2 separate regions of the Homo sapiens genome follow, and region 1 is linked to region 2. A link means that fine-mapping ties the variant in region 2 to the expression of a gene that starts in the linked region. Tissue or cell type: cerebellum. Region 2 holds a variant in brackets; the other region holds the start of a gene. All regions are shown on one strand. Distances are from middle to middle.

The links. PIP is the estimated chance that this variant, and not a neighbour inherited with it, causes the effect.
Region 1: it holds the start of DPYSL5, and the variant in region 2 is fine-mapped to the expression of DPYSL5 in cerebellum (GTEx, PIP 0.94).

What each region holds. Positions count from the first base shown.
Region 1 is chr2:26,844,762-26,852,863 of GRCh38, reverse strand. DPYSL5 (dihydropyrimidinase like 5) reads right to left here and starts at 4,732. Exons shown (of 13, transcript NM_020134.4): 1 at 4,610-4,732.
Region 2 is chr2:26,813,715-26,821,816 of GRCh38, reverse strand. No RefSeq gene overlaps it. Among named protein-coding and RNA genes, the nearest start is that of DPYSL5, 30 kb to the left of the region's middle. The variant C/T (reference allele first, on the strand shown) is at 4,893.

The DNA.
Region 1 (8,102 bases), 31 kb before region 2:
ATGCTGCTCTCAGTGCTAACCATTAACACATGTAAGCCTCAGAACAACCCCAGATGTAGATACTGTTAAGTTGGTGCAGAAGTCACGGCAGTTTTTGTCATTAAAAGTAATGGCAAAAACAGCAATTACTTCTGCACCAACCTAATACAACCATCCTCATTGCACAGATAAACAGAAAGTGGCCAAGGTGAAATCTGAACCCAGGCTTTCTGGCTCTCCCTCCTGTACACGCTACCGCTGAGCCTGGATTGTGACGAGGGAGGAGGGAGGCGAGGGAACAAGTACAGAACAGGGCTGTGATTGATGGGAGTGCTTGGCAAGCTCGGGTTCAATCAATGGTTAAATCAGCTTATTTTAAATGAAACAAGTTTCAAAGACTGAAGTAGAACAAATCATACACCATGTTCCTCCCTGAATTTCTTTTGTTCAAGTGTATAATTTGTGCCCACTTTTATACATAAATACCAAAGCTCACAAAAGATTCATGTTATGGTATTTCAACCTTTCATCTTCACATAAAAAAAAGCAAGGCAAAGCGATTTTGAAATTATTTCTCATTTATGCACCAGCAGTGCAATGAAATCAAACACCTGCTTATTGGAAAAATGATAAAACACATTTATTCTTATTTGCTCCCATATTACACCAAGTTTTCCCTACAGGACTTCATGTTGACAAAGATATCTTGTTCTACAGGATTCCTGTGAATTAAGTCTTAGAAGACTTTTCTGGAATATGTTTTTATACCTCAGAAAACAAAAAAGATACACAAGATCAGATTCTATCAGAAACTGGTAAATTTTCACACCAGGAAGATAGACTGGGTCTCAGATACTCTTGTCCAACTTCTCTGGCTCTCAATATTTTTCTATGCCCCAAGAAAATGATCTGAACACACAATTCACATTTTTTTTTTTGAGATAGAGTCTCACTCTGTTGCCCAGGCTGGAGTGCAGTGGCACGATCTCAGCTCACTGCAACCTCGGCCTCCCAGGTTCAAGTGATTCTCCACCTCAGCCTCCTCCCAAGTAGCTGGGACTACAGGTGTGCGCCACCACGTCAGGCTAATTTTTTTGTATTTTTAGTAGAGATGGAGTTTCACCATGTTGGCCAGGCTGGTCTCGAACTCCTGACCTCAAGTGATCCTCCTGTCTCAGCCTCCCAAAGTGTTGGGATTACAGGCGTGATCCACTGTGCCTGGCCACAATTTACTTTTACCCCAGAGACCTGCCTATAGTCATGCTGTCCTTTGGCTTATAGTCCCGTGGAGCTAATGCAGGATCATACAGAATCCTGGGTCAGAGAAGCTATTAAGGGGAAATTCTCAGATAGCTATGGCAGGAGAAGAGACGTGGAAGTGCCACAAATGAAGTTTACGCCAAGTCCTGAGACCTGATTTTGGCCAACTGTGTAAACTTGCCTTGCTGTGGAACTCTTTCCAGAGATAGAAGCATTAAGAATAATGCAACAACCCTGCTAATGTTTGCACCTAGAGAGGTTACGCTGACAACAGCCAGGCCTTCACGTCAGGCTGGTCATACCGGCATTCCTTGTCTATGGATTCCCTGCCATGAGGAACAGACTGCAATGGATGTTCACAGAGTGCTTTAAGAAGATTACATCCTTTTAAAAATCCATAAAATTATTACAAAAAAGAAGCCAACAAAACACTCCTTCCTGAAATTGTTCCCTTTGGGTAATAATATGAAAACATGTTTCCCATTGGAGCTCTCTTACAAGAAAAAACCTTCACTGTCAGATTTCTAGGTTTCTAATATTGAGATTCCTAGTATTTATGTACTCTGAATCCATGTTTGTGTGTATGCATAAATACACACATGCATATATAATTTAGTAAAATATAGTATGTGTATATATATATGTGTGTATATACATATTAATATATACATATATATAATTCAGTTAAAATATAGTTAAAAACAACCAATGAGCAATGTTCCAGCTAGTCCTTCCAGATCAGTTTTGTAAATTCTGTGAGGCACCTCCTCAAAACACCATCCTTTAAAACCAGCAAGACATAGCCTACTGCTGACTCCCTATGGCCAGAAAGGACACTCAGACAAGAGGCCTTCACTTTGACAGCTATCATCTGTCCTGGGCAAAAGCCAACAGCCACAGCACAGTCCTTCACCTTACACACTAATCTTGTTAAGAAAGCAAATCCTGAGATTTCAAGGCTGGGTTAAGAGAACCAACAGGTTCTCAGTTAACTTAGTGGCAAATGTAAGTGGCATCAATGAGTTCTACAATGCCAAGTATCGCCCAGTCTGGGAACAAAAACATTCCTGCCTTTTTTTTTAATGAATGGCAATTTAAAATGATAACTTTATGCTAAAGATTCACCTTTAACTTGTCATCTAACCAGTTATCAAAGCAACAGTGCAACACAGAATTCTGGCTTTGGGTGTCACTTCACATGTCAAGGCGCTGCAGCGGTGACTTGCAAGGTGTTTAGACGGCGGGCGAGAGGCTGAGTGCGTGGAAAGCCCTGCTGAAAGCCTGTTTTAAGCTTCCATTCGGTTCATCTGCTTTCCCACGGGCAAGCAGCGCCTATCACAGAGCTACCCCAGTCTTAGGTCAGCAGACAATATGGGCGAAGTCTGCAAGAGACGCACTGGCTTGGGTGTGGTCACTGGCAAAGAAAAGCACTGGACCCCTAGCAGCGGCTCCCAAACCTAGAGCCTCACCCTTGCGGGATCATTTCCACCCGCTTCTCCGCAATTTGACCACAATCCGCACCAGCCCTTACGGCTCCCCCTGAGAAAGCACAGCTGCAGCCCCTAGACTACGGCCGCCTCGGCAGACAAAGCCGCTGCTCGGGGGAACCCGCGCTGCACCGAGGCGACCTCCAGTCTTTGGCACCTGCGTCGCCGCCCGGCAGCTCCGCGCCGCTAACCACGCCGCGTCTCGGCAGCGGGTGGACAGCGCGGGGCGGGCGGCGGCGCTGCACCAGAAGGCACCCGAGCCGGAGTGGGGGGGTGGCTGTCTGCAGGCCCCCAGGCCGGGGGAGCGCCTCCCACACGGGATTCCCGGCGTGGCCAGGCCCCCATAAAACCCCAAAGCCAGCACGTGCCCGGAGGTTCCGCAGGGAGTATTCCCAGCACCAGAAAACTGCACCCTCGCGTCCTGGGTGGCCCTGGTTTGTCGTCGGATGGACACCAGGGTCGGCTATTGTTCTCCGGGTCTCCCCGAAGGGAGATCCGCCTCCCTGGCAGCACCTGCTGCTGGGCAAAGCCTTTCAGCTCCTCGAGAAAAGGGCGTGCCGTGGGCGCCGCGGAAGATCACAAAACCCTAAGCGAGTCGCTACCGGCTGGTTTCAAGCCTGGAGACAAAGCTCCTCACCAAGCCAGCCCAGCCCGGTCCCGGATCTGCCATCCTGGGTCCCTAACCCCGGTCCGAGGGCCACGCCCAGCCGGCCACCTGGGCCGCGGGGCCCCGCGCCTGGAGCTGAGGATCCTCGGGCCCGAGACCGCCTCTCAGCTGCTTGCCCCTCCCTCCTCGGGAGGCTCCCCTTCCCAGGAGGCCCCCCTCCCCCGCACAGCGCGGGTCTTCTCCTCGCTCCCGTCCTCCCTCCTCAAACCCAGGCGGCCTCCACCCGCCTGCATCCCTCCTCCCCTCCCCATTCTTCAGCAGAACCAGCCTCGCCGGGCGCCACCTGCACCGAGCTCCTTCCCTCGTTCTTCGGACCCGCCCCCGCCCCTTCTCTTTCCTCCTCAAACCCTAGTTCCCACTCCCTGCTCCCCGAGACCCACTACCTGTCCTAACCCAGCTCCCCAGCCTTCCCCATCCCCATCTTTTCTCAACCGAGGCCTCCCCTCGCCCTCTCCCGGCTTCTCTCCAGCTCAGACTACAGCCCCGTCCCCAGGCCCGGGGCGTCGACGTCGGTGCCCGCTGAGATCGATGCTGCAAGGCGGGCTCCCGCGCTGGGCTCCAGCCGAGGGACCCGGCTCGGCGCCCGCTCCGGGCTGGGCAGCCGCAGGAGGCCTTTGTGGCTCAGGCGGGAGGCTCGGAGGCGGCGGGCGAGTCCTCTGCAGGCGTCCGCTCCGTTAGCCGGGCGGTGGAACAGACCGCCGGGTCGGGTCCAGGCTGGGCAGATCCCAGCTCGGAGGCGAGAAGGACGGAGGGTGTGTATCTGGGTGGTGTGTGGGACCGGGGACAGCGCAGATCCTGGGACCGGCAGGACTGGCCCCCGGCCAGAGGCGCCCCCGCCCAGCCCTCCAGCGGTCCACTGCACCGCGCCCGGCTAGGAAAGCGGCCCACTGCGTGCTAGGCGCGAAACCCCTCGGCCGAGCCGCCTCCTCACCCCAGGGCTTTGCAACCCCGCGAGCACGCATTAAACGCTTACTATGAGCAAGGCCCGGCACGGCGCTTCGCGGGCGTACAAAGAGGACCCCAAGAGCGCCCCGGCTTAGCCCCGATGGCCACCTCCCAACCCCAAACCACACCTCCCGCCGCGTCCCCTGCGGCCGGGCCCCAGGCTCACCCGGCTCCCCGCCCTTTTGTGCGCCTCACGCAGAAACAGAAGGGGGAGAGGAGGATGTCCTAGCCCGGGAGGGGTAAGCCCACCGACCCCCCTGCCATCACCCACTCCTCCGAGATGCTGCGGCCGCGGGGGCCCGTGGCTCGGTCCGTCTCCGTCTCGCCGCGGCGCCGGAGCTGCGGGTGCTCGGGGCGGCGGCGGCTGCACGCGCGCTCGCTCGGGGGCCGCCTCAGCGCGCCCAGCGCGGGAGTCCAGAGTGGGGAGCGGGGGAGGGGCGCGTGTCGGGGGCTGGGAGCGGCCTCCGCCAATCACCGCGCGGCCGGCTCCTCCCGCCGCTCCCCACCTCAGCTAGCAGGTTAAGGGGAGGCGGGGACAGGCGGCGTCCCGCATCCTTGGCGCCGCGCGCCGCCGCCGCCTGGGGACTACAACTCCCGGCAGGCCCTGCTGCAGGGCCGGGGTCCGAGAGCGGACGGAGGGCGCGGCCGGAGAACTCACCGACCCCCCTAGCACCCGGCTCCGCGTTCCCTCGGGTTTCCATGGCGACTCAGGACACCACAAAGCCTGGACGCGCTGAGGCACGGGTCCCCAGGGAGGGCCGGGGGCGGTTCCGGAGGACACCCCGCCTCCCCTCCCCCAGCTGGATCCCACCCCAGGGGCTGAAACAATGCCGCGGCCGCCTCTCCCGGGCTGCGGCCGCGCTGCCCTCCGCCGCAGGACCCCGCCGAGGCCGCCTGGTTCGCGCCAAGACCCGCTCCGACGCCCGCGGGATTGCGGGATGCAAAGGGCCGGGTGGGCGTTATAGGAAAACTGTTCTCATGAACAAAGTGGACGGCCACTTGGGGCCACCGCAGTTCGCATCTGCACCCGGGGAGGTCTCGAACCCGGAGTGCGTTCTCTCCACTGAGAAGATTTTGCCCAGCGCCACGCGGGTGCTTCCCTGTCCAGAGCGCTCAGGCCCAGTGCCTGTCTTATTTCTGGCTTCTGTCAAGGGACAGCGAAGCCTTTGGAAATTATTTATAACCCAATTTACATTCGCTTCACCTGTTTCTTCATGTTTAAATACATACATAATTTACCAAAATAAACAAATCTAAAAAAGGAGAGGAAGGATCATCCCCGGTTTGTCCCACCTCCCTAGCTAATCCCGGTTCAAGCCTTTGCCATTGATCTGTGTTATTTTCTGCAGTTGTAATAATAGTTTGGATTAGTCATTTGCCTCTTTGCACTTAATGTCACTCCAAAGGCGTTGCGATGCGCGTTAAAATGCAGCATCAAGGACCTCCAAGCTGCAGCTGCAGAATCCCTCCCTCCCCGGGCTCCCCGGCGATCCGGTGGGGAGAGGAGTCCCCTGGCAGCCATGGCCTCGTGAGGTGGTTCTCTTTGCAGGATACTTTCAAACAAAATGGTGTTCACTACTCCGGGGGCGTGGAGGGGGTCCCCTCTCCCCATCTCAGCAAAATCTACCCGGGCGCAGGACCCGCAGAGCCCGCCAAGGCGGGGTTCCCTGCCGTCCTTCCCCAGAGAGCTTAGGGCCTGGACCAGGCCAGGCTGGCCTTTGAGGGATGCATTTCTGGATTACCCCACCCCTGAGTCTGCACTCCTTCTCCCCTTCCCAACTCCCGCCTGCTTGGTAAGCAGAGAGCAGGGAGCCCCCAGAGGAACCTCAAAGCATCCCTAACCCAGTGCAGCCCGGGATGTGGCTGTGAAAACTGCTCCAGCTTGGGGCACTGCCCTATGGATTCTCCAGGGCTTGCCCGGACAGGGATGTAGGCAAAATGGACTGGGCTTCAGGGAGGTGGCGTGGAGCTGCCAGCGGCCTCCCGGCGGCGGGGTTCCGAGACTACCGCGCGCGGGCGGTGCTGCGCTTTTTGCTTAAGGGAGAGAGAGCCCTCTAGTGACTGTAAATGTTTTCTGCAGCGTCTCGTAGACCTTAAATTTGGATTCTAGCATCTTAGCTTTCTTGGGCTACCTTCCCTAGTCAGCGAAACGGCTGCCTCTACGTCATCTGTCAGTTTAGGATATTGATAAAGGTTGCACCCAAACCGGGGGTTGCATATGTCCTCAGTCCTCGACTTCGGTTTGTTGTTGCTAACTTAGGCTCCGTTTCCTGGGAAGTAGAAAGAGCACAGAGCTGGGAGTCCCGCATTGCTGGGTTGGAATCCTTGCTCCTTCAGTTTCTGCCGACTTGACCTTGAGAAAGTGACTTACTCCATCTGACCCTTAGCTCCACCCAGAATACTGGGGTCATATACATTCTTTTAACCTTGTCGTGGAAATTAAATGAAGAAAGGTAGATAAAGGCCATAGCACATTGCCTGGCATAGTGTGCATGCAACAAATGCAGCTATTATTATTTATCCCACAGAAAGTGGTTATTGAACAGTGTGAGGGATATAAGAATATGTGACACTCCCCACAGTAACAGCCACAAAAGGCAATATGTTGTGATTTTTATTATAAAGCTCATATTACTACTCGGTCAGATAAAGTAGAATAAGAATTCAGACGAGAAAGAAAGCAGTTCTGCATAACACTGGGAGATGGAGGAGCTAGAATTTGGATTTCACCTGGATATTGATTTGATGGACAGTTCTAAGCAAAGGTCTGAGATTCTGGGGTGAAGGAGCAAAAGCTTATGGGTGGGGAACCCAAGCGGGTATTTGGAAGACAGCAGAAGAACCCACCATGTCTTGAAAGTCAAGTCCCTGAATGAGGGTGATGGGAAGAGAATGGGGATGGTGAGTTAGGCAGGGGTTGGGGGTCAGACCTCACAAAGCCCAGGGCTACTGGTTTTTATGAGTAAATGTGTTCTGAGTTCCCAACAGCCTTAACAAACTTCAGAATAAATACAAGTTAAAGACCACCATGAAAGGAGGAGGGAGGAAAATCGCACTGTCTGAACTCCTATTATGAGCCCGGGTCTATTTGGTGTTTTACAACACATCATTTAATCCTTGCTACTCCACACAGGAGGTAGCATTGCTCATTTCTTACAAATGAGGCTATCTGGATTTAGAGAGGTTAAACGATTTGCCTGCGAAGTCACACTGCTGTAAGCAGCAGAGCCAGGATTCCAAAGGACATCTGCCTGGTGCAAAGCTGAGCCCTTCCTGCTTCAGCACGTCCTCCCTGCCAGCCTCCAGAAGGCCGGATCTCCAGTGCAGAGAGAGCCTGTGACGGTGAGTGACCCTCAAGGAGAGCCTGTTGCCAAGTCATGGAACCCAGATGTTCCTTCCTCTGCAGCGGCAACCTGTTCCTCCTCGAAGTGCCCCCGGGAAAGGGGCTCTCCAGTATTCCCAGGAGCTTTGTATAATATTAAGTTTCCTCCTCATCCTTCTCTTTTCACCTTTTTTTGCTCCTTATACTTCTCAGTGACAACCCTAGTGTGGGGAACACATTGTGAAGTCTAGTTAGCCATTAAAAAAAAAAAGTGAGGCCAGGTGCAGTAGTTCATGCCTATAATCCCAGCACTTTAGGAGGTCAAGGTGGGAGGATCACAAAGCCCAGGAGTTTGAGATCAGCCTGGGCAATATAATGAGTCCTTGTCTCTGCAAAAAAATTTTAAAAATTAGCTGAGTATGGTAGCAAGTGCCTGTAGTGC
Region 2 (8,102 bases):
CCTATGAGTTTGAGACCAGCTTAGGCAACATAGTGAGACCCTGTCTCAACAAAATATACAAAAATTAGCCAGGTGTGGAGGTGAGTGCCTGTAGTCCCAGCTACTTGGGAGACTGAGGTGGGAGCATTGCTTGAGCCTGGGAGGTTAGGACTGCAGTGAGCCGTGATCATGCCACTTCACTACAGCCCGGCAGACAGAGCAAGACCTAATAAATCAACAAATTAATTAATTGAGTCTTTGATTCCCAATGAAAACCTAAAGACAGAAGTTAATTTTCTGGCCTTAGATGCTAATACTATATGGCTCTGGATTTGCAAAGCAAACAGAAAGAGGCTTATGTGATTAACATTCTTGTTGCACCCATGTAAATAATTAGCACATATCTAGTGAGACTGGTGTTTTGTGTATTGCCATCAAGAAAAGTTTTGGAGATTATGATGATCAAAAAGAGGGCAAGGGAAGTCAGGAAAATTGTAGAAAATGTTTTACCGGACAAAAAGATTACTGGGTATCTATTGTTACATTAAGTTAACCCTAAAGCTCCCTCCTTACATATTTTAAGTTCGGCCTAAGCGTTTCTCCATAGATAGTAAACTCCAGCCAAACTGGATGTGTAAAGAGACTGTAACCTACTCGTGTGCCAATCACAGAGTTTCAGCCAATCACAGGTGGCCAACTATTCAAACCATGCTCAAATAAGGCAAACGTTGAGCTGTAACCAATCAGCTGTTTCCGTGCCTCACTTTCATTTTCTGTACATCACTTTCTGTTTTTGGTCCATAAATATGGCAGCCCTGGAGTCTCTCTGAACCTATTCTTGTTTGGGGGGACTCATGATTAGTGAATCATTCTTTGCTCGGTTAAATGCTATTCAATTTAATTTGTCTTCAGTTTTTCTTTAACACTTTTTTTTTTTTTTTTTTTTGGACAGAGTCTAGCTCTGCTGCCCAGCTGGAGTGCAGTGGCGCGATCTCGGCTCACTGCAACCTCTGCCTCCTGGGTTCAAGTGATTCTTGTCCCTCAGCCTCCCGAGTAGCTGGGATTACAGGTACACACCACCACACCCAGCTAATTTTTTTGTATTTTCAGTAGAGACAGGGTTTCACCATGTTGGCCGGGATGGTCTCAATCTCCTGACCTCGTGATCCGCCCGCCTTGGTCTCCCAAAGTGCTGGGATTACAGGCGTGAGCCACCGTGCCCAGCCTCTTTAACACTCTTATGGGTTAAATTGTGTCACTCCCCAAAGTGACATATATTGAAGTCCTAACCCTCAGTACTGTGAATGTGACCTTATTTGGAAATAGGGTCTTTGCAGATTTAATCAAGTTAAGATGAGGTCATTAGAATGAGCCTTTATCCAATATGACCGATGTCCTAGTAAGTGGGAAATCTGGACATGGGGAGAATGCCACGTGTCTATGGAGGCAGAGATTGCAGTGATGCATCTACAAGCCAGAGAAGCCAAGAATTGCCAGAAACCAGCAGGAGCCAGAAGAGGCAAAGAAGGAGGCTTCCCTGGAGCCTAGAGCGAGCCAAGCCCTGCCAACACCTTGATTTTGCACTTCTAGCCTCCAAAATTTTGAGACAAATTTCTGTTGTTTTAAACACCCAGTTCAGGTGAGGTGGCTCATGCCTATAATCCCAGCACTTTAGGAGGCTGAGGTAGGATGTCTTGAGCCCCGGAGTTTGAGACCTGCCTAGGCAACATACTGAGACCCTGTCTCTACAAAAAATACTAACCAACCAACCCATTCTGTGTTGTGATTCTCAGACCTAGAAAATGAATACATATCTTTTCTGTGGAAAGCAAGGCTTAGACTTTACCGGGTTATCTGATTCTATATGGTCTGCACCTTTCATTGTCTGTGATTGCAAATTATTCCAGCTTATAAACATGTAAATACATTTCCCATTAAAGATGCAATTCATTTCATTCAGTGAAAGAGGCCATCTCTTAGTAATTCATTTCCGCATTCCTGGTCATCTACATACGTGTTTGTTTTTTTGGATTCTCCGCGGAAACAGTTTTTATATCTTACTGGTTCTCTCAGTAGTTAACGAGTTAAATAAAGTCTTTAAGATGTGTTCATTTTGTATTAGTATGAGTCATGATTTTACCTTTCTGGAAAAAAATTAGCAATAGGTATAGAGAGTCAAGGGATATTATCATCATCATATATTTTTTGAGACGGAGTCTCGCTCTGTCACCAGTCTGGAGTGCAGTGGCGCGATCTCGGCTCACTGCAACCTCTGCCTCCCAGGTTCAAGCGATTCTTCTGCCTCAGCCTCCCCGAGTAGCTGGGACTACAGGCACGAGTCACTACACCCAGCTAATTTTTGTATTGTTAGTAGAGACGGGGTTTCACTATGTTGGACATGCTGTTCTCGAACTCCTGACCTCATGATCCACCTGCCTTGGCCTCCCAAAGTTCTGGAATTACAAGCGTGAGCCACCACGCCCAGCCAAGGAATATTATTTTGAAAAGTCTGCTCCAATTTCTCGGTTCTTTCCCAGGTCAGTCAACCAGGGCATTCTCTATTCACTGCCCCATAAAAGAGATGAATATGGCTGGGCATGGTCTAGCTGCGCCCCTGGGGAGAGCAGAAAGAACTCAGGCATAATCAATAGATTTGGCAGAATATGAGTCTGAGCAAGTCCTCATGCTTGGCACTAGATAAAGGCTTCCAGGTGTGGGTGGAGGAGAGCAAGAGCAGGAGGGAGGAGCGTGCAGCAGCACAGCTCATGTGGATACTAAAGCAAGGGTGCCCTGTGCCTTTCCCCAGCCCAAGCCCAGCTGTCAGGGTGGGACGATAGACTGTCTCATCACAATAAGCCAATTTACAGCAGAGGGTCCTTGCTGTTGCACTGTGTAAGACCCCAAAATTTAGATACACCCCACAGAAGAATCACAACTCCCTGAGATTAATTTGCCATAACTACTCCCACTCCAGCTGAGCACTTGGAATAAAAATCATGTATCGATAGAAAAACCAAGTTTGTAGATTTAGATTCTGCTCCCTTACAATATCTCACTTGTATTCAGGTATCGTAATTTATTTTTCTATTTCTTAATCTAGTGCACATTTGTCAGTCTCTTTAGCTTCTCAGCATCCCAATTCCCTTCTAGTGGAAGCCTCCCACTGTAGTTGCTGAAAGCCCCACGTCAGTTTTCCTGACTCTCTTGTCACTAGCTTACAGGCATGGGATCCAGTCCCTGCCCATCACATGCACCCACACCAGGCTTGGAACTAGGAGCTGGGGGTGCAAAAGCAGAGGCCCTGGAGGAACCCAGTCTGGCAGAGGCAGAGGCTTCAGCAAGATGGCACATCCCTGAGCAGCTGGTGGCCGTGGGGCTGGTGGTGATACGCAGTGTTTGGCGCCTGTAGGATTGGAGGTGCACACTGTAGAAGTGAGTCCACTGCCCCAGTCCTGCCCAGGCTTTCAGGCACCCGCTCTTCCTGGCTACACCACCTAAAGCCATATCCTGTCCTTTTAATAAAACCCTTTCCTGTCTACCTTAGCAATGATTTCTGTTGCTTCCAATTAAGAACTCAGATTATTTCCGGACTTTCAAGTTGTTTGCATTTTTTTGCTATTATAAACAATCTGGAACAAACATTTTTGAATATCCATCTTAGTATCCTTGTCTAATTTCCTTAAGGGAAATCTGATGACAGAATTGTTGGGTACTCATATTTTTAAGGGTTTTGGTATAGAAAATGTTACATTACATTCCCACTTACAGCCTGTAAATACGCCTGTTCTCCCTGTACCTTTGTATTATTCCACAGTGCATCTTAATAAGGCTTATGTGCTCGTGTGCGTGTGTGTGTACACACATGAACCCAGACCAGTTGAAATCTACGTCCCTTTCCCCTCTTGCCATCATTATGAAGCCAGGTTAATATCTTTATCCATGCACCCCAGACCCCACAGAACAATGGGTAACTGTAATTGAAGTAGAATATTCTTCATTATGTGGTTTGGAGCTACTCTCAGCTCAAATTCACTAAAATAATGAAACTGGAGCATGAAATGAAGAAAAGGAAACAAGTCATGAAGAAAACCTCCGTAAGGCCGGGCGCGGTGGCTCATGCCTGTAATCCCAGCACTTTGGGAGACTGAGGCAGGCAGATCACGAGGTCAGATGATCGAAACCAGCCTGGCCAACATAGTGAAACCCCGTCTCTACTGAAAATACAAAACAAAAAATTAGCTGGGCGTGGTGGCGTGTGCCTGTAATCCCAGCTACTTGGGAGGCTGAGGAACAAGAATTGCTTGAACACGGGAGGTGGAGGATGCAGTAAGCCGAGATCGCGTCACTGCACTCCAGCCTGGCAACAGAGCGAGACTCCATCTCGGGGGGGGGGGGGGGGGAAAAAAAGGAAAAAAAAACCCTCTGTAAAACTCTGACCAGGGGCGAATCCTGTCTTGTCTTCTTCATGTCCAGGGGGAATTTTATTGATTAGCCAGTTACCAATAATGAATTCAAAGAAACTCCCGTTCAAATCATATTTGAGATGACTCTTGAATCTCCTGGACATAGAAAAAACAATTTGCAATGCACGATTCTGTATAAAGTGACCTGTGGGTCAGAGCCCTGGGGCACCTGTTGGGCATGAGAAGGGAAATGAGGCCACTGTGGCAGAAGCTCAGACCTACGGCAGAGCTGGAAGGTGAGAAGGGGAGGGAGCCTGGGCCTGGCTGAGTTCCTGAAAGCACTAGGGTGGAGGGAAATAGCCAGCTCCTCCCATGGGAGGGGCTGCAGGGCTCAGCCTGTGCCTAGGAGAGAGGCCAGCCCATCCTGCCCCTAGCCCTGCATCACTAGGGAGGAGGCGGTTCTTCTCTGCTTCCAGTATGAAGGCTTGGCTGCCACCTGAGATGATGTTG[C/T]TTCTCAGGCAAGTAATTCTAAATCCCCCCACCCCCTTGGCATTAAATGGATTTTCACTGTTGTCACATGCTCTCCCCTTATCAGAGGCTCAGGAACTCTTTAGACACTATAGCTTCCCTCTTCTGGTTGGCCCCTCTACGTACATTAGAGTGATTTCAGAACACTTGAGACCATCCTCTGTCCCCTCCCCTATGTGACTGATGCTTGAAGTAACACAAGCTCTTTAGGACTAAGGCTTATGACTCCTCTAACCTGCCCCTCAAAATATTATAGCAGTTTAAAAAGTACAGTCATTTACTCGAGTATAAATGCGCCACTAATCTAGATAAAGGAAAAAGGTGAGGAACCCCCCAGACCAAAAGGAAAAGGAAAGACAATAGAAGACTCAGGCCAGGAGCGGTGGCTGTCCTCCCAGCTACTTGGGAGGCTGAGGTGGGAAGATCGCTTGAGCCCAGGAGTTCAAGGCTGCAGTCAGCTATGATGGGGCTGCTGCACTCCAACCTGGATGACAGAGTGAGACCCTGCCTCAAAAAAAAAAAAAAAAAAAGAGAGAGACAGGAGAGAGAATAGAATAGAGCAGTTTGGGAGGCCAAGGAGGGCAGATCATCTGAGGTCAGGAGTTTCAGACCAGCCTGGCCAACATGGTGAAACCCTGTTTCTACTAAAAATACAAAAATTAGGCGGGCATGGTGGCGTGCGCCTGTAATCGCAGATACTTGGGAGGCGGAGGCAGGAGAATTGCTTGAACCTGGGAGGCGGAGGTTGCAGTGAGCTGAGATCGCGCCACTGCACTCCAGCCTGGGCGACAGACCGACACTCTGTCTCAGAGAAAAAAAAAAAAGAATAGAAATATAAGGCTCACTAGTGTCCATGCTTCCTTTAATAATATAGGTGTTCTCTCCTGGGGCTTCTCAGACAGGACCCATTTTGTTTTCATTTGTAACACCGCTGTTTTCTTCTAAACCCCAGATTCAAATCTGTCTTTAGATAACCACTCTAATTCTGGTCTTCACTTCTGAAACACGCACACACGTAAAGAAACAACAAACAAAAAAAACTCCCCCCACCCCGCCGCAATTCTCTACTCAGTCCAGCTGCTCCCTCACTGCCCTTGGGCCTGGCAGGCGCCCCCGCCCCGGCGCCCCCCACCCGGCGGCCCCCCCGCCTCCCGCTCTGCCTGTGCACTTCCTTCTCCTTCCAATCAGGAAAGTAGAAAAGTGGGCCTCACCTCCTCCGACTTGCTAAAGCTGGGTGGGATTGTTTCTGTTTTTTTTTTTTTTTTTTTTTTTTTTTTTTGAGACGGAGTCTCGCTCTGTCGCCCAGGCTGGAGGGCAGTTGCGTCCGGAATTGGTGGGTTCTTGGTCTCACTTCAAGAATGAAGCCGCGGACCCTCACGGTGATTGCTACAGTTCTTAAAAGACGCGTATCTGGAGTTTGTTATTTCTCATGTTCGGATGTGTTCGAAGTTTCTTTCTTCCGGTGGGTTCGTGGTCTCGGCAGCTCAGGAGTGAACCTGCAGATCTTCGCGGTGGGTGTTACAGCTTTTAAGGCGGTGCTTCTGGAGTTGTTCGTTCCTCCTGGTGGGTTCGTGGTCTCGATGGCTTCAGCTGTGAAGCTACAGACCTTCGCGGTGAGTCTCACAACTCATAAAGGCAGCGTGAACCCAGAGTGAGTAGCACCAAGAGTCATTGCAAAGAGCGAAAGAACGAAGTCTTCACACCATGGAAGATCAACCCCACCGCGTTACCACTGCTACCTCCCGCAGCCTGCTTTTATTCCCTTATCTGGCCCCACCCACATCCTGCTGATTGGTCCATTTTACAGAGAGCCGACTGGTCGGTTTTACAGAGAGCTGATTGGTCCGTTTTGACAGGGTGCTGATTGGTGCGTTTACAATCCCTGAGCTAGACACAAAAGTTCTCCAAGTCCCCACCAGAGTAGCTAGATACAGAGTGTCGATTGGTGCATTCACAAACCCTGAGCTAGACACAGGGTGCTGATTGGTGTGTTTACAAACCTTGAGGTAGATACAGAGTGCCGATTGGTGTATTTACAATCCCTTAGCTAGACATAAAGGTTCTCCAAGTCCCCGCCAGACTCAGGAGCCCAGCTGGCTTCACCCAGTGGATCCCGCACCAGGGCTGCAGGTGGAGCTGCCTGCCAGTCCCGGGCCGTGCGCCCTCACTCGTCAGCCCCTGGGTGGTCGATGGGCGGGGGGAGGCTCAGGCATGGCGGGCTGCAGGTCCCGAGCCCTGCCCCGCGGGAAGGCAGCTAAGGCCCGGTGACAAATTGAACACAGCAGCTGCTGGCCCAGGTGCTAAGCCCCTCACAGCCCGGCGCCGGCAGGGCCGGCCGGCCACTCTGAATGCTGGGCCCACCGAGCCCACGCCTACCCGGAACTCGCTCTGGCCCGCAGCACCGCGCGCAGCCCCGGTTCCCGCCCGCGCCTCTCCCTCCACACCTCCCCGCAAGCTGAGGGAGCCAGCTCCGGCCTTGGCCAGCCCAGAAAGGGGCTCCCACAGTGCAGCGGTGGGCTGAAGAGCCCCTCAAGTGCCACCAAAGTGGGAGCCCAAGCAGAGGAGGCGCGGAGAGCGAGCCAGGGCTGCGAGGACTGCCAGCACGCTGTCACCTCTCACAGTGGCCTGATCTCCACTCACTGCAAGCTCCGCCTCCCGGGTTCCAGCCGTTCTCCTGCGTCAGCCTCCCGAGTAGGTGGGTTTACAGGTGCCCGCCACCGCGCCCGGCTAATTTTTTGTGTTTTTAGTAGAGACGGGGTTTCACCGCGTTAGCCAGTATGGTCTCGATCTCCTGACCTCGTGATCCGCCCACCTCGGCCTCCCAAAATGCTGGGATTACAGACGTGAGCCACCGCGCCCGGCCTGGAATTCTGTTTCTACAGGCGCCTACAGAATCCCACGGTAAACCCTCCGATTAACCCAATAGATGTTTGCGGAGGAGGTGAGTGAGTGAGTGAGTTCCAGCTCTCCCTTTGAGCTGAAGCTATCAGACTTCAGAATCCCTGGCCGGCCATGGATGGTGAAGCCAGTGGCTCAGGAGAAGCGAATTCACAGACTAGCTGGAGGCCAGTCCAGGGCAGATGGCTGTTTCCGTAGAGGGATTTGGTGGGTGTGGCGCCCAAGTTGGGGAGCTGGGGTTATGTTGGGAGGCCAGCACTGAGGAATGGGTTCCTTTGGCCCACCTCCAAGAAG